4 separate regions of the Homo sapiens genome follow, and regions 1, 3 and 4 are each linked to region 2. The links come from fine-mapping of genetic effects on gene expression. A gene starts in region 2. Each other region holds a variant in brackets. All regions are shown on one strand. Distances are from middle to middle.

Region 1 (5,150 bases), 81 kb after region 2:
TTTAGAACCGTGTAAAATGATTTCAGGCTGTGTGCTCTTCTGGGACTTGCTTATTTCCTAAACATTGTGGCTCTAGGATTCATCCACGTGACTTCTCTTCTTTTTTTTACTTCTGTGTAATAATCTATTGTAAGATTGTATCACAGTTTATTCTCCAATATATTTGGTTAAGTGCTGTTTTCCGCTGTTGTGACTGTTCAAATTTCTTTGCCTGTCTCCCAATGGCACAGGTGCAAGAGCTTCTTCAGCATGTACTTTCCAGCGTGTGTCATTCTTTAAATGGCTGTATTGACTGGCATTCCCACCCGCGCTATGTAACTGTTCCTGATGAGCCATATTCTCTCCAAGAGTGGTTATTCTTAAATTTGGTCTTAAAGTTGTCTAGACTTCTTTTATATTTTGGATATTACCTGTGCTGTCCCTGAAACCCTCTCCCAGATTTTGATTTTTTTTTTTTTTGCATTATTGTATATTTTCATGAACAGAACTTTAAAAATATAATTACTGGAAGTTATTAGAGTTAGTCCTTTTTTGTGGTGGTTTTAAGAAATCTTTTTCTACCCCAGGTTAATAAAGACAATTTGCTACATTTTCTTTTGAAAGTTGTAAGTATAACATTTCACATTTAGGTTTAGAATCCACCTGGAATTGGTCCTGGTAGATGGTGTGAGGTAGATTCTACTTTAATTGTCCCCCCACATGGATGGCCAGTTGTCTCAACTCTTCCCTGTTGATCCGTGTGTGACCTCTGTCATAACACTCATACATGAAGTGTTTGTATATTTCTGGTTCTTGACTTTCTCTTCTTTTCCTATTGGGTGATTTTTATGCCTCAAGACTACACTGTCTTATATACTCGTAACTTCCCCGTAGGTCTTGATATGTGGGTGAGCATTTCATGTTCCTCACGTTGTAATCCTAACTTAGCTGATTTAAATATTACATCTATGTAGATAGATGGTAAGCGCTTTGTACTCTTCACTTCAACATGTATTACCGTAAAGAGAGTTGACTTTTCACATTTTAAATTTTGAGCCCATTTGTTACAATTAAGTCTTTCTGAGAGTATTTTTTATACCCTGTATTTTTCTTTCTTTTTTTTTTTTAAGGTAACCGTACTTTTCCCAAAATGCTATATTGCAATTGGACTGGAGGCTATAAGTGGTCTACGGCTCTGGCTCTAAGGTAAGCCTTGTTACTCGTAAGTGTAAAAGGCCGTTTGCATTTCTTTGGGATTGGTGGAATCTTCAGACATTGAGCTCAGTCCCCTTCATTCTTCACTCAGATCCTACCACGTGTGTTAGACTCTAGCAAACAGCTGGAAGAGTTTAGATGATCAGACCAGTACCTCCGTGGAGTTGACTGGCAGGCATGTTAGCTTTTCTCCCAAGATGCCTGCACATTACGTTTACCATTCTGAATGTACCACGAATCAGTAAAATGCTGTGGACTATCCAAAATAGGCAGTTTTATGATGTATATCTTTAATTTTAAGTAACTATTATAAAAAGTAATACATGATGAACACTGAAAACTGGAAAAATGAAAATGACAAAAACATTAAAAATTACCTATAATTTCATCAGCAGCAGATAATTATAGGCTTATATTTCTTACATAGAAATGTGCTGTTTGTTAAACTTCTCAACAGTACTTTAAGAAATTATAGCAGTTCTTCCCACCAAAGGGAAGGGCAGGTAAGACCCTGGTTAACTGATTAGTGAAAAGGTTACGCTGCCTACACTTGAAGTTTTGAGTTCGTGCCTGAGACCCTGAGGCCTGCAGCATTGCAGCCATAGGGCAGGATTTCTCAGCCTCATCACTGCTGACGTTCTGGGCTGAATGAGTTTTTGTCTTGGGGCTGTGCTGTGCATAGCAGGGTGTTGAGCAGCATCACTGGCCTCTACCTACTACTTGTCAGTAGCAAACCCCCCATCCCTTGCAGCTGTGACAGTGTGTCTCCAGATGTTGCCAGGTGTCCCCTAGGGGACAAAATTGCCCCTTGCTGAGAACCACTGCATTAGAATTTGAGCTGAGGAAAGAAGGATCTTGCCTGGCAGGAAAAGTGTAACTGAAAAGTAAAAGAGGGTGCCAGGATAGAAAATGAGACTAACAAAAATAAGATAGGGCGGGCGCGATGGCTCACACCTGTAATCCCAGCGCTTTGGGAGGCCGAGGCTGGCGGATTGCTTGAGGTCAGGAGTTCAAGACCAGCCTGGCCAACATGGTGAAACCCCATCTCTACCAAAAATACAAAAGCCTGCCATCGTGGTTCATGTCTGTGGTTCCAGCTGCGTGGTAGGCTGCAATGGGAAGATCACTTGAGCCCAGGAGGAGGAGGCTGCAGTGAGCTGGCATTGCACCACTGCACTCCAGCCTCAGTGACAGAGTGAGATTCTGTCTCAAAAAAAAAGATTAGTAACCATTGCTGACAATGGTTCAAATTAACAACTGGCTTTTTAAAAAAATAAATAAATGTTTGAAACTTGGAATAATTTTAATTTACAGAAAAGTTGCAAAGATAGTAGAGTTCTTATATACCCCTAACCTGGTTTCCCTACATTGTTAACCTCTTACAGTACTATACTGTAACATACTTTCAACAATTAAAACTTCTCAGCACTCAACATGGTTTTTTTTTTTTTTTGCTTTTTTTTTTTTTTTTTTTTTTTAACGGAGTCTCTCTCTGTCACCCAGGCTGGAGTGCAGTGGCTCAATCTCGGCTTACTGCAAGCTCCACCTCCCAGGTTCACGCCATTCTCCTGCCTCAGCCTCCCGAGCAGCTGGGACTACAGGCGCCCGCCACCACGCCTGGCTAATTTTTTGTATTTTTAATAGAGACAGGGTTTCACCGTGTTAGCCAGGATGGTCTGGATCTCCTGACCTTGTGATCCGCCTGCCTCAGCCTCCCAGAGTGCTGGGATGACAGGCGTGAGCCACCGCGCCCGGCAACATGGTTTCTTTTAAAATCATCACTGTAATGAGATGATGCCCAAGGTTTGCTTCAGGGTACTCTGGAGGGGAAAGAGGAGGGTTTTGATGAAACACAGCTGGCCAAGTGTTGATTATTGGAGCTGAGTCATGGGTACTGTTCTCTTTACTTTTTATTGTTAGGTGTTTAGAAATTTTCCATAATAT[A/T]GTTTCAGTATTATTAGATCTTAGAATTTAAAAGATCCTTAAATCTTTTAAGGATTTATTCCTAACATTAAGATTTTAGAGATGAATGAAAAAATAGACTGAAAACATGGATGACTTGATCCAGGTCGTCCAGGTGGTGGTGAGCTCCTCCTGACTCCAGCCCTGACCCCGTGTTAGTGCACTTCCTGTTAGACTGGGTCTTTGCTTTATTTTGACTAAAAAGCAATGAGATTGATAACTTTAAAAAAAGAAAACATTGGTTTTTTAGTACAGCTAAAAATTGTATGTTTACTTTTGACATTTAAACTGTCTTCCTGCCCGTAATTATTTGGTGGTGTCAGTTTGTGAAATAGTCACTTGTGTTCCAGTTAAGGGCTACGATCAGGGGAAGCCCTTTCTCAAATCTGACATAATGTGGTGATTAAACCGTGACTGGCCACAGCTGGGGTGGAGGTGGTCTCATGGAATCCTGTCTGTTTGCCATCGCAGCATCACCCTCGGTGGGTTTGGAGCAGACCGTTTCTACCTGGGCCAGTGGCGGGAAGGCCTCGGCAAGCTCTTCAGCTTCGGTGGCCTGGGAATATGGACGCTGATAGACGTCCTGCTCATTGGAGTTGGCTATGTTGGACCAGCAGATGGCTCTTTGTACATTTAGCTGTGGTGTGTGCTTCAGAAAGGAGCAGGGCTTAGAAAAAGCCCTTTTGTCCGTAGGAGTTGATGTGGTGTGAGTGATATATTTCTATGTTTTTAATGTACAGCATCTGTACTTTGTTTGCCTTGATAAAGGTAAGATAAATGAAACGCTGAACTATGCTAATCTGGAATTTGTTTTTATTTGCCTGAAATATATTTTTTTCTGTGAAAAAATTAAAACGTACTTAAGCCAGGAGAATGAATTATACAGTGATTGAAAATCCATTTAATTCCTATGACTTTTGTTTTGTATTGCCCAAGTCAAACTACATCACTTGTATCTCCAGCCCAAATGTAGTCTGCCTTGAAAAGTCTTTCAGCTGTGACTGCAGGAAGTGGGAGTGTTTTTATTGTTAGCTAATTGCTGTGACTGCAGGAAGTGGGAGTGTTTCTGTTGTTGGCTAATTGAAGTTATTAGGCTCAGCTTCAGTCATGTGTAAGTTTTGCAGTGTAATACATATGTAGTCTGGTCTGTATATATGAAAATTTGAATTAAACTGCAGAATGTTTATGTCTAGTTATGGTTTAAATTTTCTTAGTAGTATATAAAAGGTAAGAGTACTGAAAAATTAATAAAATTGCAAGTTAAGAAATACTGTGGGCCTGTTTTCTATATTAAATATAATCTTGAATAATCATTACAACTTACCTTTATTGTTAAGAATAACATTTTTATCTTTCAGGGCATTACTCCATTCTAACAGAGTCATAATTGGCTGGTTTATTGACACAGTGGAAATATATAAATGTTTTTGAGTATAGATCTGTTATAGACCCTTTATCGGGGAAAAAAAACTCAGTTATTCAAAAAGATTTTTACTCAAGCTTGCTTTTGAAACATTTAAAAACTTAGCATTTTTTCTTTCAAATGTGGGTATCTGAGTTACTGCTTTTTAAACACTTGTGTGTATTATCCAGAAGACTGTTAACCACCATATCATATCTAGAAGCTATAAAATATCTGCATATTTCATTCAGCAGATGATTTATTGATTTCAGTTTACCTGAAAGGTTTCAGTGATCACTTGCTGCTGTTTAAAGCACAGTCCTTTTCTTAGTTGAGTGACAGTTCCATCTCTCGTCGCTAGGTGGCGCATCCCCATTACATTTGCTTCCCCATTCTAGTTCCAGAAACAGAAAAAAAAACTGGTTTTGTTTTGTTTTGTTTACGAGGAACTTGTCACAGAGCATGAGCAGTTCTTCAGGATGGGAGTAACCCGGTTTATGTGGACCTTTCTTTCTGAGAGCAAAGACACACTTTTTGTATCCGTTAAACTGTTGATTGAGCAGGTGTTTCTTTAGAAGACGATCTTTTCTTC
Region 2 (5,150 bases):
AGACCAGCCTGGGCAATGTAGCAAGACCCCATCACTACAAAAATTTTTTTAATTAGCTGGGCATGGTGGTATGCACCTGTAGTCCCAGTTACTCAGGAGGCTGAGGTGGGAGGGTTGCTTGAGCCCAGCAGGTCGAGGTTGCAATGAGCCAAGATCTTACCACTGCACTCTAGGTTGGGTAACTCTTATCTGCCACAGACATTTCAAGCACCATCAGATCTGTTGCTCATGTGGCCCACATAGAAAAGTAGCTTGCATAGCAGCATTACCTGTTTCAGAATCTTGTTAGGTTCTCAGTCTTACTTAACACTGGCAGTCTTGAGTTACATAGTAATTGGTTTAGAAAAATAATGTCCAAATGAGGTATATGTTGCCTCCAAAGTGGCATCTCTAAATGCTCTGAATTACTTAATGCCTAGAAGTTTCACTGAGGTGACAGCCCTCTGAATTTTTACATTTGGGGATATATTTCCTTCTCTACCACCTCCACATGCCTTATCAAGGTGACTATAGTATTTGCTATTTCCTGCTCATCAGGGAAAATCAGCATGCTATCATCAATGATAGGACACCAGCATGATATCCTATGGAATACAGCAGCAATCAAAGTCCTTGTGGACTAGATTATCACATAAAACTAAAGAGTTTATATTGTCTTGTGGTGATACCCTGTGAAGGTGTATTGCCAGCCTTGTCAGCTGAAATAAAATGGTGCTCGATAGCCCTTAACTAATAGATATAAAGAAAGAAGTATTAGCCAGCTCAATAGGTGCATATCAGGTGCTAGGGGTTATGCTGATTTACTCCAACAATGAAATCATATCTGGAAGAGCAGCTGCAACTGGAATCACCATCTAATTAAATTTATATTAATCTACTATAATTCTCTAACATCCATTTGTCTTCTACATAGGCTAAATGTAAATGGGATGGTAAGGTAAGGTAAATGGGGTGTGATGAGAATCTCCACCCCTGCATCTTTCAAGTTCTTGAAGGCAACAGTAATCTGTGCAATTCCTTCAGGAATGCAGTATTACTTTTGATTTATTATTTTTGTATGTTGATAAAGTTCTAGTGGTTTCTGCTTGGCCTTTCCTACCAGAATAATAGCCTTATGTCCGAGGGTCAGGGAAACACTGTAGGGATTCTGCCAGTTTGGAGTATATCTATTCAAACTCTGCATTCTGGAACTGACGAAATAACTACAGTGTGAGTTTGGAAACCCAATGGGCTCACTGGGTATTGTGTGATCCTAGCTAAAACCTGGAAATAACCCAAATTTTCCATCAACAAATGAATAAACAAATTATGGTATATCCATACAATGGAATACTACTCAGAAAAAAAGAACAATAGATACACACAAACATAGGTAAATATCAAAATTATTGTGCCGACTGAAAGTAGCTAAACAAAAGGAGGACATACGGTGTGGTTCCATGTGTAGAAAAATCAAGAAAATGCAAACTAACCTATAGTGACAGGAAGCAGACTGGTGGTTGCCTAGGTATTGGGAATGGAGACCCAAGAGAGACAAATTCCAGAGGGTCCCGAGGAAATTCTGGGGTGGCTTAAGTGGGTCCATGACATTCAGTGATGTGTTGGTCATGACAGAATGGCAGAAGCAGAAACTCCATGGCAGTGGATTGAGAAATGATGAATAATGAGGAGTCAGTGGGTCCTATGTAACTGTATCCAGAGGCTTCCTGAGGAAGGACTAAAAAAGATACAGTGATATTGGTTAGCAACATACTTCATGGAATCTCCTCCTGGGTGCTGTTTGGGATTCCACTTAGCTTAATCCAATGAGCTTGTCCCCCTCCGCTCCTTCTCCTGCACTGATTCTGCTCCTGGAGTGGAATTTACCTGCTTTTCCTCCTTGCTAACATCTCCCAACCTTTATTTTCCAGAGCAAAATAAACCTTTTCCCCTTTCTCAAAATTTTCTCCCTTTCTCAAACCACACCAGTCCAAGCTAAGCTCTTCCACTTCAGGACTCTTATAAGGGCATTATTACCTGTATCACATTATATGACATGCTCAATTAAATTCTGCCAAAGTTGAAAAGTACTAGTGTTAAGTGTGTAGAAACTGGCATCAGACTATCTGAGTTTGATTCCCCCTTTGTCATGTAGTGGCTGTGTGACCTTAGTCAAGTAACACAGTCTCACTGTGCTTCAATTTCTCCAGCTATAAGCGGATATAACAGTATCTCCTGTTATGAAGATTAAAGGAGTTACTACTGTTACAGAGTTTAGAACAGTGTTTGTCACATCCTAAGCCCTAAGAATAGTGATAAAAATCAATTTCTGTTCCTGCTCCAGGAAGTTTCACGCTCATGGTTAAGAGGGATACAAAGATATATGTGGCATTTGCCCTAGACTCAAGGAGCCAGTAATTTCGTGCTGGTCGGATTTAGATTTCACAGCGATTTTCTATATGCCCTGGCCCAGAGGCCTCAGTACTTGGGCAAGTTTGGCACGAAAGGCCAGAAAGTCCATTTATAATGAATGGCCACTTTTTAGAACCTGTTTGCAAGGCAAAAGAATGGTGACTGCCAGAATTCAAGAGGAAGAAAGGGTGAAGCCTTTTTGGAGAACGCAGACGATGGCCTTTTTGCAAGGTTTTGGAAGATTTTCGTTTCAACGGACTAAAAACTACTGCCAATAGCCTCTAGACAGGCCTCGAAAGGCAGGGGAGGCCCTTCAGACCCCATTTCCCCACTGCCCGTGACCCTAAGGTGGGCCTGGCCTCAGGCCCCGCCCCGCCCCGCCCCTGCAGGGTATCTGGCCTCAGGCCCCGCCCCGCCCCGCCCCGCCCCTGCAGGGTATCTGGCCTAGGCCCCGCCCCTCCCCGCCCAGCGCCCCGCCCCTGCAACGTGTAGGCCTCGGCTCCAACGAGGCCCCATGGCTCCGTCCCCGCCCCATCGCCCCGCCCCTCCCGGGAGCCCTGTCTTCTGCCGTGCGCTGAGTGTCCGCGTCGCCCTCGCCGCAGTCGCGGGCACCCCGCTCGGCGTCGGTGCCTGAGGGAGGCCGCGATGGCGGCCGAGGCCCTGGCGGCGGAGGCCGTGGCGTCGCGCCTGGAGCGGCAGGAGGAGGACATCCGCTGGCTGTGGTCGGAGGTCGAGCGCCTGAGGGACGAGCAGCTGAACGCGCCCTACAGCTGCCAGGCGGAGGGGCCGTGCCTCACGCGGGAGGTGGCGCAGCTCCGGGCCGAGAACTGCGACCTGCGCCACCGCCTGTGCAGCCTGCGGCTGTGCCTCGCCGAGGAGCGGAGCCGCCAGGCCACGCTGGAGAGCGCGGAGCTAGAGGCGGCGCAGGAGGCCGGCGCACAGGTAACCGGGCGGTGGGGACACTGGAGAGGACGCGGGCGGGGCGGGCCGAGACGGTGCGCACCGAAAGGTTTTCAACTGCGGGGGCAGGTGCGGGGGCGCCCCGGGGGAGTGCCCTCCCAGTGCCCTGCGGCTGGCCCGCCCTGCCCTGCTCGGTGGTCCCGTGTGGCCTGGGGAGCCGCCGGATTTCCAGCAGTCGCCAGACTTAACCAAATGCTGTTGATTTCTCAATTCGTCCATTAAAGAGCCTGCCACGCATCTTTTTCAGTAGCAGAAATAGTGTTTTCATTTGTTTGAAAAAATGCTGGAGTGTTTAAAACTCATTCTTTCCTTGGTCAGAAAGACTAACAGCTGCGTATGTAAACTCTCATTCCCTCTGGTTCTTTTTTGTTGTTGGGTTTTTTTTGGACGAGAAGTTTTCGCTTTTTGTGCTCTTGTTTTGGTGGTTCATCTTGAGAGGATAGCTGTATATTTAACATTTTTATTTAATACAGTATTTTATGATTTGTAGAAAGGATAAATTATCTTCTTTTAACATCATACTTTCTGAGTCCTGAAGCTTCTCAGGCTGAGATGTTCTGCAGTCCTTTAGGAAGGACAGCTGCGGTGAACTAGCAACATCTTCAGGAAATAGTGCATTTGATGTGGCGGGCAGCAACCACACATTTTCCAGCCACATTATTTGTTTAAAGTTCAGGACAAAAGGTTTTCAAGAGCACAATATATTAAATGTGCTTAGCAACAGTGTGACAGGAAGGACTGAACCCTGGAGAATGACTTGCCCACTGAGAGCTGTAGCTGGTGGTCAGGAGAGCCCAGCTATGAGCCTCTAAACACGGGGCACTTGCAGCCTGCTGGCATGACTCTCTTCTTAAAATGTGTTGCTTTTTCTTGCCATTGATGTGAGTCATTTATAATTTATCTTTCAGCCTCCTCCTAGTCAAAGCCAAGACAAGGACATGAAAAAGAAGAAAATGAAGGAAAGCGAGGCTGACAGCGAGGTAAGTTGTTGCTGTGGAAACAATATAAAATACTACCTGTAATTTTAAATATGTGTATATAGTTAATTACCTAGGATTTCCAATAAAAATTACTGATTAAATTATTATTTGGGTCACATTAGTGTATTTAAAACTTTTCAAGCCTTAAATATGAGATGTCTTGAGAAATGAGCTGCCCATGTTTAATAAACACGTGTATTTAATCTATTTAAGTTGTGCTACTAGAGTACTAGAGTTGGTTTTTTTTGTTTGGTTGGTTTTTTTTTGTTTTTTGAAGGCGGAGGTTTGCTCTTGTTGCCCAGGCTAGAGTGCAATGGCATGATCTCGGTTACTGCAGCCTCCACCTCCCAGGTTCAAGCGATTCTCCTGCCTCAGCCTCCTGAGTAGCTGGGACTACAGGTGCATGCCACCAAGCCCGGCTAATTTTTTTTTTTTTTTTTTTTTTTTTTTAGTAGAGATGGGGTTTCACCGTGTTAGCCAGGAGGATCTCGATCTCCTGACCTCATGATCCGCCCACCTTGGCTTCCCAAAGTGCTGGGATTACAGGCGTGAGCCACCGCCCCCGGTCTTTTTTTTTTTTTTGTATTCGAGAAACTAGCTACTTTGCTTTTGTATATAAAGCATTAAAACAATCAGTAAGTATTTATCTAGCATCAACATTTGGTAGGAGTGAAGAAGGAATACCTAGGCCCAAAGAAGTTAGTCTGGTTGAGGAATTCAGGCAGACTCAGGACAAACAACTAGAGAACAGAGTACGATGGTATACAAGTAAGTGCTGTAATGTGTGACTCTGTACACGTTCTGTAAACAGTAGAAAAG
Region 3 (5,150 bases), 66 kb after region 2:
TACCTGTTTCAAGCCCTTCAGAGATCTAGTTGCTGTCCTGAAAACATGTGACCCACACTCCTAGGTACCACCTCTTGCCCTCCAGCCATCCTTCCTTCAACCCATATTGTTTGCCTTTGGGGTTCCCTACAGCCACTGAGGAGGAAAACATGTAAACCTGATTCATAAATGGCACAAACTCAAAGAGGATGGCTCAGCAGCACAGCCCATTTAGGATGACAGTGGGGAAGGGAAGTGTCCTAAAGTGCAGAATTTTGAGTGGTGCATCTTGTGGTCTTTTTTGAGTGGTGCATCTTGTGGTCCTTTTTGAGTGGTGCATCCTGTGGTCCTTTTTGCCCGGAAGGAAGAATGGCCGGAGATAAGGAGTTACATGGATGCACAGGCTCTAGTTACTGCTTTGGCCACAGAGTCAAAGATTTAGAACTAATTAGATTGAAAAACAAATTACATAGATTTGGGAAGCAGAAATGTGGATGATCACTCAGAATGGGCCAACAGAGGTGGTATTGCCACCAAAAGGCCCCCGCTGTTGAGGAATTTTTCAGTATTCCAATACAAGAGGACCCATTCTGTTAAAATCAGCTGCTTTTTCCCCTAGTTGTTGCTCAATGGCTCATGGGCAAAGTGGCCACTGGTGGATAGGCATGGGCTCAAAGACATGGACTTTGCCTCACTAAGTTCCATCTGGCTACATCTCTTCTGAGAATTCAGGTTGCCATCAGTCAGTGATTAATTGTGATCCCCCGGGATGGTACCATAACCTGGGGTAATAGCCAGTGGTCTTGTAGCAGGTTGATTACGTTGGATCCCTTTCATCATGTAAGGAGCAATGCCTCATTCTCACTGAAGAGAGACTCACTGTGGATTTTGCTTTGCTCTTCTTTGCTGCCATGCTTCTGCCAGTGGCACCAAATATGTACTTAGGTGCTGCCAGGAACACAACAGTGCTTCTGACTATGAAAGAGATTTTATAGCAAATAAGTAAAGCATTGCACTGACATTAAGGGATTCACTACTATCACCATGCATTCAGAAGCAAGTGGCTTTACTAGCAGTTATAGCACCAGCTGGCAGACAACATCTTGTGATGATGTATCCTAGTATGTGGAAATGCTGCAAACCAGCAACCACCTGTGAAATTTCTACCTCCCATTCCATTTTTAGAAATTGGCTAAGCATCTGCTCATGCAGTTTAGCTCTCTCTTCAGAAACTACTGCCCCCACTGCTACTATTGCCGGGCACAGTCCCTGCAGCTCCCACTGTGGACACTGGGCACCGGATGATACTGCTAGGGTCACTGCAACCAGTTCCTCCAAAAGCTCCATGTCTCTGCATCACCTTTCCTTGCCATAATGGATTCCATGTGGTGCCTCCTTCTCCACTCTGTCTTAAGTCAGAGTGCCATGTTTATACATTAGCAGAACCTAGATCACACCCATGCATACTACCATTCATGTCCAGCGAGACTGGGGAAGCAAATTTTTGAGCAGGAAACATAAGGTGGAAAGTTTCCCAAACAAAGTGTCTTCCAAAAGACCTGGGTAGCTAGAGAGTCTGTGTATATTCCTGATATTTTGTGATCATAGAGAAATATACTTAGGTATCATGGAGTTTCTAAGCTGTTGAAGTTACAGTTAAGCCAAAAGTATGGGTATGAATATGTATGCCGCCTGAGTATGAGTTAACATGTTTATATTTCTTTCCAGTTGGTTTTAAATAGTTTACCATAGGTAAGAGATGATGGTGTTTTGCATTAGAATGGTTGCAGTGAAAGTGGTTTAAAGAAAAGAGAGAGAACTAGTGAAATAGGAGATGGAGAGGGAGACAGGAGGTGGTTGGGGCCAGTGCACTGAGCATGCCTTCCTTTGTCGCAGAGACGGAAGTATACTCCCTGCACTTCATACATCCAGACTTCAGACAGCAGTCAGCCTTGTGGGGAAATCTCCCCAGGAGCCAAAAGTAAAGATGGCTAAAGTGTGGGTCCTTGAGAGGAGTAGGGCTGGGGATGGGATAAGGACAGAGCTCAAAAGGAAATATGTAGTTGCCATTATATACCCTGTATTTCTGTGTTCTACCATTTATCATGTATTGTTTTGTGTTTGTAATTTGAGAATAAATATATAAATATGCACATTTATAAAATGCTATCTGAAATAGTCCTCCTTGCATGTCCTTTCACCTTCAGACTAAATACTCACTATGACAGGGAAAGGGCAAACATGTCCCACAGCGGACACTGTTTATACCTACCCTGCCATCTTTTTTATTCTAGAAAAATTATATTTTGAAATAATTGTAGGTTCGCATGTTGTTCTAAGAAGTTATATAGAGGCCGGATGTGGTGGCTCACGCCTGTAATCCCAACCTTTGGGAGGCCGAGGTGGGTGGATCACCTGAGGTCAGGAGTTCAAGACCAGTCTGGCCAACATGGTGAAACCCCGTCTCTACTGAAAATACAAAAATTAGCTGGGTGTGGTGGCAATGGCTGTAATCCCAGCTACTCAGGAGGCTGAGCTAGGAGAATCACTTGAACTCGGGAGGCAGAGGTTGCAGTGAGCCGAGATCACGCCACTGCACTCTAGCCTGGGTGAGCAAGATTCCATCTCAAAAAAAATAAAAAAGAAGTTATACAGAGAAGTCCAGCACACTCTTTACCCAGTTTTCCTCAATGGTAACATCTTGCAAAACTAGATACAATATCACAGCCAAGAACTAGACATTGAGACTGTCCACCAACCTTGTTCCGATTTCACCAGCCTCACATGCACTCATTTGTGTGAACGTGTATTTAGCTGTGTCACACGGACAGATGGTGTAAGGCCACCAGTCAAGGCACAGGACAGTCCATCACTTGTAAGGCTCCCTCCTGCTGCCCTTTTTTCCCCACACTCAAACCATCCCACCCTGTCCTCCTATCTGACAGCCATGAACTTGTTCTCTAGCTCCATCATTTTGTCAT[A/G]TAAAGAATATTACATAAATGGATTTACAGAGTACACAAACTTTTGAAGTAGGCTTTTTTTTTTTCACTCAGTGGAATTCCCTTAAGAGCCATCCATGTTGTTTTGTTTCGAGATAAATTAGTTGGTTCCTTTTTTTTTTTTTTTTTTTTGCTGATGGTGTTCCACGTTCCACAGTGTGGATGCACCACAGTTTGGCCATTCACCCGCTAAAGGACATTTGGGGTGTGTGTTTCCTGTTTGGGGCTATTATAAATAAAGCTGCTATGGACGTTAGTGAGCAGTATTGTGTGTGAACCTGCGCTTTCATTTCTCTGGGACAAATGCCAGGAGTGCAATTGCTGGGGCAGACAGTAAGTGCATGCTCAGCCCTTTGGGCTGTCTGCCAGCTCATTCTACCTGCACTTGTGCTATCAAAATTCCAAAATTCTCCTTTCATTTACTTTGCTGCCTTCAAACTTTAATATAATTTAGTTTTCTTCCATGCTGCGCTACTGAAACTGCCCTCTTGTGAAGTCTTTAAAAGAATCTTTGGTTATTTGAAAATCATGTAATAAGTAGCCATTATTACACTTTGAAAATACATATTTTATATATATTTTTCAGGCCTTTCTGGCTATCTCCTCGTCAGGTGATGGTCATCCCTGTGGGGCCAACTTGTGAAAAATATGCACTTCAGGTAAAATCAGAGGTGTTTAAAGTACATAATAATCTTGCATGTATTCTGTGTAGGTCATCGATTTGGAGTGTCCTTCATGCTTTAAAATATTGCAGAACTGACACATTAGCTTAAACCGTGTTTTCAGCAGGTGGGAGTAACACACGAATCATGTCTCTGCAGCTGTCTCAGAACTATTTCATTCTTAATGTTTTTTGAGAAATTAGTATTTTAAAACATATCATAATTATTCATTTCTACACAGCTCTATTAGGGAAGAATATTATCTGTTGCTGTGTCACAAGTGACCCCAAAACTTAGCAGCTTTAAACAACAAACATTGATGATCTCACAGTTCCTACGAGTCAGGGTCTGGGAGCAGCTCAGCTGGTGGATTCTGGCGCAGAGCGTCTCCTGGGGCTGCAGTCAGGCTGTCAGCCAGGGCTGCGGAGCTCGGGGCTCGCTCACAGTTGGTGGATGCAGCTCCTCATCACCTGGGTGCTTGCTTGCCTGAATGTCCTCACTGCATGGTGGCTGGTTTCCCCCAGAGCAAGTGATCTGAGAGAGATGGGAGCTGCAGCCTTTTATAAACTAGTCTCAGAAACGATGCGCCGACACTTCCGCACTTCTTTATGGTCACGCAGACCCGCTCTGGTATAGTGAGCAGGGAACTATACAAAGGTGTGAATACCAAGAGTGGGGAACAACGGGGTCTTCTTGGAGGCTAGGTACCATAATGTAACAGTAAAGGTGTTTCATTTTCTTCTAGGTATCCAGTGAATTTTTTGAAGAAGGATTTATGGCTGACGTTGACTTGGATCACAGTTGTACACTAAATAAGAAAATACGAAATGCACAGCTGGCTCAGTATAATTTTATTTTGGGTAATTTAAGTTTGTATATATTTTTCCAAATGCTTTTTTTTCCCACTTCAATTCCAAAAGACCAAATAAGAAATATGGTTCAACTACTTGATTATCATGATTTGTCTATTTAATACTTACACAAAAGGAAGAGTCCATAGCATTCCTAGCTTAGCTGTTCCTAGGTACTCTTTGTTGTTTGCTGGAAGAAGAGTTGTAAAGTTTCACCTGAATCCCCTGGGATAGTTTTACTAGCAATAGTTCATATTGCAAGCAAACAACGAAAACAACTCTGAAAATGATCCCATCAGTAGAATTATATACTTTATATTTCAGCCTCACAGGCCTGTAATATTTTCCCTCACTTTTCTGGCTTATTAGGAAACTTTGGGATTAAACTAACAGAAAGAAAAGATCCCAAATTTAAAATGATCTAAAGGAAAAGATTTAGATGAAAAGTAAAATGTCCTTTTAGCATATGACTAATTAGATGCAGAATCTAAAATTTAGGCTTTAAAAATGATTCCAAAATTAAGAGAAACTAACACTGATATAACTGCAGGCACAGTATTGCTATTTCTTGTAAGTTGAGAGTCTGTAGAAGGCGAAATAAATATGCATAGCATTGTTCTATTGACAGTGTTTCAATGATAATGTTTGACACCAGAGTA
Region 4 (5,150 bases), 21 kb after region 2:
AAGTAAAAGTTGCAATTAATTTTAACAAATTTTTAACCCAATATATAAAAAGTATAATTTCAATGGTAGCCAGTATAAAGAATGATTAACGAATGATTTTCTTCTTCTTTTTGCAACATTATACTTCCAAAGTCCAGTGTGTTTTATACTCACTGCACATCTTCTTTCAAATTAGTGGCATTTGAGGCCAGGTGTGGTGGCTCACACCTGTAATCCCAGTACTTTGGGAGGCCAAGGCAGGCGGATCACTAGAGGTCAGGAGTTTGAGACCAGCCTGGCCAACATAGTGAAACCCTGTCTCTACTAAAAATACAAAAATTAGCACATAGTAAAAATACAAAAATACAATACAGGCATGGTGGTACATGCCTGTAATTCCAGCTACACGGGAGGCTGAGGCAGAATCGCTTGAACCAGGGAGACGGACGTTGCAGTGAGCCAAGATGGTGGCACTGCACCCTAGCCTGGGTGAGGGAGTGAGACTCTGTCTCAAAAACAACAACAACAACCACAAATTAATGGCATTTGAAATGCCCAGTAGCCACGTGGCTTGTGGCCTCCATGCTGCACGGTGTCGCTCAAGGCTGTGAGCTCTTTGTATCCCTCGTGTCTCAGCACCTAGAACATCAGTAGATGACCTTTCAATGTTTCTTGAAGAAAAGTAGAGTTGTTTTCTTCATTTCAACATTGTGTGTAATAATGTGTAAATATGTTTTTCTTCGTAGTACAATAAATTTAAATGCCGCATTCTGAATGAGAAAGTTAACACTGCAACTACCACCGTGTACAGGTTTGTGTCCACACATGGTAAACGCTGCTCAGTGGTAAACTTGAAGGTGTTAGCAGTAGAGGCCGAGTTTGTTTTCTGGTTGGAGATCGATTTTTCAAGTTGTGTAGTTGATAATCTACCGTAGTTACAATCTTCAAAATGTTTTCACTAAAGAGAAATGATTATTTTCCCCTTTTTAGTAATCAGGACAGTACTGAGACCCATATTTTGTTTCCTGGGTGTTAGCTATAACAGGATTTTTCTCCATGTGAGTGATACTGTTGGGAAAGGAGTTTCTATTCTGTCCTTCCACGTTCTTATTAATGTGGCAGTGGGGGCCATTACAAGCCATCTCCTCGGCAGTGATTCTCTGCCTCATACTTACTGTCCAGAGTGCAAGTGTAGAAGAGTCTGCCCCATTGTCCAGAGTCCAAGTGTACAGTCTTCATGCATTAGCAGGATACTCATGATGAGACCAAAAGAAAATACTGGGAAACAAAGGCAGGATCAAATGTAAGAGGAGACAAGTGAAGTTAATACCAGAATCACTTAGCTCTGTTCATTTAACCTCAGGTTCCTGAGCACCTTTTTCTTTATTCGTGTGTATACGCCTTATATGTCATTGCTGTTCCCCTTTCCGTGTGTTCCGGCCATCTGGGTGCTGCTAGGACTATCACAGTACCGCCTTAGAAGACCTGGTATTTATTTAATTATAACCACAGATATTCTCCCTCATGGTACTTACTTTCGACAGTCAAGGACTTATGGTTCTCTGGTTTAATTGTACTGTAAGTAAAATCATATCCCCTTTGTGCAAAGCTATGCACGGTGCATTTCTTAAAGCTTAAAAATAAATGAAAATGTAGAAAACAGGCCAAGTTTTAAATTTCTGGCTTCTAATGCTTGAGCTCTTGGGTTTGAGAACCTTACTTACGTCAACATTGACACTTTTTGTAGTTTTTCAATTTGAATGGCTTGTATTTAATTTTTGAAAAAAAAATAAAGCTTTTCTTTTATGGCTTTCTTTTTTTTTTTTTTTTTAATTTTTTGAGATGGAGTCTTGCACTGTTGCCCGGGCTGGAGTGCGATGGCGCGACCTCGGTTCACCGCAACCTCTGCCTCCCAGGTTCAAGTGATTCTCCTGCCTCAGCCTCCCAAGTAGCTGGGATTACAGGCGCCCACCACCACGCCCAGCTAATTTTTTATATTTTTTATTAGAGACAGGGTTTCACTATGTTGGCGAGGCTGGTCTCGAATGCCTGACCTCGTGATCCACCCGCCTCGGCCTCCCAAAGTGCTGGGATTACAGG[T/C]GTGAGCCACCACACCCGGCCCTGTGACTTTCTATGTAAAGATTAGAGTATTGAAGCCTTTCATGCTAATTTGGCATTCCTTCCCTTCATCTGAGTGTTGTTTACAAGCTCTCTCCCTAGAGAACAATACACAAAGACTGACCATTGAGAGAGATGACATTTTCGTGTTTGCCACTCTGTAAGCCAGTCCCTTTTTGTATTCATTGTAATTTTTAAGTTTTTAATCAGAGAATTGCCTAGTTTCTTTCAGAAGATGTTCTGTGGTTTTTGAATCTAGAGGGCAGAGTGGACTCTGAGGCTAGATGAATCACCTCTCTCCTTCACCCTAAATTAAAAATGGCATTGCTACATATAAATAAGTGAAGCTCTACCTAAAACATAGGATATTATGGCTTATAATGAATAGTCCAGAACACTGTAACTGTGCCTGAGCATGTCCTAAATATTTCATTATAGGTGCGGTCCATTAATTGACCTTTGCAAAGGTCCACATGTAAGACACACTGGAAAAATTAAAACCATCAAAATTTTTAAGGTAAGGATTGATTTTTTTTTAATACAGTAAACTTAAGGTGCACTAGCTATTAAAGGATTTTAATCATATCTTATTCAATCATATCTTTTGTAGTCTGAACATCATGATATTTTAAAATATTTCATTCTTATTTGATGAAAACTAATAAAATCATTTAGAATTTTGATAATTAGAACACTATAGGTGGCTTTTGTTTATCATTTTACCTTATTGTAAGTGTTATAACATTTCTTTTTCATACGATATTTTATTTTATTTTTTATTTTTCTGAGACAGAGTCTTGCTCTGTTGTCCAGGCTGGAGTGCAGTGGTGTGATCTTGGCTCACTGCAATCTCCGCCTCCTGGGTTCAAGCGATTCTCCTGCCCCAGCCTCCTGAGGAGCTGTGATTACAGGCCTGCACCACCCCACCCGGCTAATTTTTCTATTTTTAGTCGAGATGGGGTTTTACCACATTGGTCAGGCTGGTCTCGAACTCCTAACCTCAGGTGATCCGCCTGCCTCAGCCTCCCGAAGTGCTGGGATTATAGGCATGAGCCACTGCGCCTGGCCTTTTTCATACACTATTTTAAAATATTGTTCTATATACTATGGTTTTCTTGAATAGCCCTGATGTAAGCAAGAATATTTGTCTGCATGTGAAAGTAATGTATTGCGGCATAAAGAAAACAGCAGGAGGGGATATGATGTTGTAATGGAGAAAACATCGCTCTGGGATTAGGAGGCATGGGACTGACTTGGCAGTCCCAGCCTTTCTTGGCTTTGATTTTCTTACAGGTAAAATGGGGCTGGCTAATGGCACTGTTCTTAATCATTGACTGTAGGTCAGCAAGACCGACCTTTACTTCCCCATACCTACTGTCTGTTCTGCCCCATCCTTGGTGATTATGATTGCTGCTTAGCCTTCCCTCCTTTCTGTGTGCTCTCACTGTCATTCCTAGAATCCATAGCAGACTCTACATAATTTGCTGGTTAATGGTATAATTTAGGCTGGGAAGGTTTAGTTAGAATCCATTTTAAGATTGTTCCCAGCACTACAAATAGTCTTCTTTAAGCTTTGTTGATTTTGTTTGTTTGTTTGTTTGATTTTGAGACAAGGTCTTGCATTGTCACCCAGGTTGGAGTGCAGTGGCACAAACACTGCTCACTGCAGCCTCGACCTCCTGGGCTCAAACAGTCCTCCTGCCCCAGTCTCCCAAGTAGCTGGGATTACAGGCATGTGCCATCGTGCCTGGCTAGTTTTTGTATTTTCTGTACAGATGGGGTTTTGCCACGTTGTCCAGGCGAGTCTCAAACTCCTGAGCTCAAATGATCTAACCACCTTGGCCTCCCAAAGTGCTGGGATTATAGGCATGAGCCACCATGCAGGGCTGCTTTGTTGATATGATAGTGGAAAATTGCATTTGTATTTAAGAGCAGTTTTACTTACAACTGAATGTATGATATATTTACCAAAATCCTCTTTGATATTTAGAATTCCTCAACATATTGGGAGGGCAATCCGGAAATGGAAACATTGCAGAGGATCTATGGAATATCCTTTCCTGATAACAAGATGATGAGAGACTGGGAAAAGTTCCAAGAGGAAGCAAAGAACCGAGATCACAGGAAGATCGGGAAGGTATGCCCCACATCTTAATCACTGGAGATGTAATCATAAGCCAACATAGGAATGTTTCTGTCTCACAAAACTAAGTTGCTTTAAAAATAAGATTTCTTCTTCTTCTCTCCTATTTTGCTGGCACTCACAGTCCGCTGCTCAGTGCTTTCATTTTAATACCCCAGATGTCTTCTAACCTCTTTCCTTCCTGTATCTTTTATTAATTTTTGAAAATTGTACCCTTCTCTTATTTTTGTCATGATAAAAAATAAAGTTGTTTTTGGTGAAACCCCACCTCTACTAGAAATACAAAAAAATTAGCCAGGCGTGGCAGCACGCGCTTGTAGTCCCAGCTACTCTGGAAGCTGAGGCAGGAGAATCACTTGGGCCCGGCAGGCGGAGGTTGCAGTGAGCTGAGATCGCTCCACTGCACTCCAGCCTGGGCGACAGAGTGAGACTCAGTCTCAAAAAAAAAAAGAGTTGTTTTTTACATTCTGTGCACTTTATAGCATCCTTTGTATCTGGGAGACAGAGCAGCGTGTAGAAGGAAAAGCTCAGACTGGAAAGCAGCTCGGCCTGAGCTTTATGCCCAGTCCTTGTACTCACTAGTTGTGTTAGATGATGGGCAAGCTCCGTGTCCTTGTCTTCCTTGCTGGGTAGCCTTGCAGGGTGGCTGTGAAGACAGAAACTGGGTGACGGTGCCTGGTACAGGATAGGCTCTCAGTAGGCAGCAGCCATGATGATCATCATCACCTAAAGCCCACCTCCTGCAATGAACTTTTTTGGTCTTTCTACCGTGTTGTCTCCCCATGAGTGCCGTACTCCAAGTGTGCCAAGTAAGAAAATTCGCAGAGAATAGCAGAAGGTGAAGTAAAAGCTAAGTTCAAAGCTAATTAGGCATAAATATGATTGGAAATTTTACATATGCTGTTGCATG

Alleles and levels. Positions count from the first base shown, and alleles are read on the strand shown. Sizes are in standard deviations (SD) of each study's normalised expression.
For the expression in cerebellum of the gene that starts at base 2,951 in region 2, allele A in region 1 goes with a lower level than allele T (moderate effect, 0.66 SD a copy in GTEx).
For the expression in cerebellar hemisphere of the gene that starts at base 2,951 in region 2, G is the high allele of the variant in region 3 and A is the other (moderate effect, 0.51 SD a copy in GTEx).
For the expression in tibial nerve of the gene that starts at base 2,951 in region 2, allele T in region 4 goes with a higher level than allele C (moderate effect, 0.49 SD a copy in GTEx).

Evidence for each region. PIP is the estimated chance that this variant, and not a neighbour inherited with it, causes the effect.
Region 1: its variant is fine-mapped to the expression of TARS3 in cerebellum (GTEx, PIP above 0.99). The same link has a PIP of 0.9 or more in gastroesophageal junction.
Region 3: its variant is fine-mapped to the expression of TARS3 in cerebellar hemisphere (GTEx, PIP above 0.99). The same link has a PIP of 0.9 or more in uterus.
Region 4: its variant is fine-mapped to the expression of TARS3 in tibial nerve (GTEx, PIP above 0.99).

The regions. Positions count from the first base shown.
Region 1 is chr15:101,641,122-101,646,271 of GRCh38, reverse strand. It overlaps TM2D3 (TM2 domain containing 3), which reads left to right. Exons shown (of 6, transcript NM_078474.3): 5 at 1,110-1,185; 6 at 3,628-4,424. The coding sequence ends at 3,793. Among named protein-coding and RNA genes, the nearest start is that of TM2D3, 8.7 kb to the left of the region's middle. RefSeq lists a silencer at 4,830-4,989. The variant A/T (reference allele first, on the strand shown) is at 3,139.
Region 2 is chr15:101,722,274-101,727,423 of GRCh38, reverse strand. TARS3 (threonyl-tRNA synthetase 3) reads left to right here and starts at 2,951. Exons shown (of 19, transcript NM_152334.3): 1 at 2,951-3,333; 2 at 4,260-4,331. The coding sequence starts at 3,037. RefSeq lists a silencer at 2,666-3,555.
Region 3 is chr15:101,656,272-101,661,421 of GRCh38, reverse strand. TARS3 (threonyl-tRNA synthetase 3) reads left to right here. Exons shown (of 19, transcript NM_152334.3): 17 at 3,565-3,637; 18 at 4,386-4,500. Among named protein-coding and RNA genes, the nearest start is that of TM2D3, 6.5 kb to the right of the region's middle. The variant A/G (reference allele first, on the strand shown) is at 2,961.
Region 4 is chr15:101,701,323-101,706,472 of GRCh38, reverse strand. TARS3 (threonyl-tRNA synthetase 3) reads left to right here. Exons shown (of 19, transcript NM_152334.3): 7 at 726-790; 8 at 2,536-2,614; 9 at 4,088-4,234. Among named protein-coding and RNA genes, the nearest start is that of TARS3, 21 kb to the left of the region's middle. The variant T/C (reference allele first, on the strand shown) is at 2,080.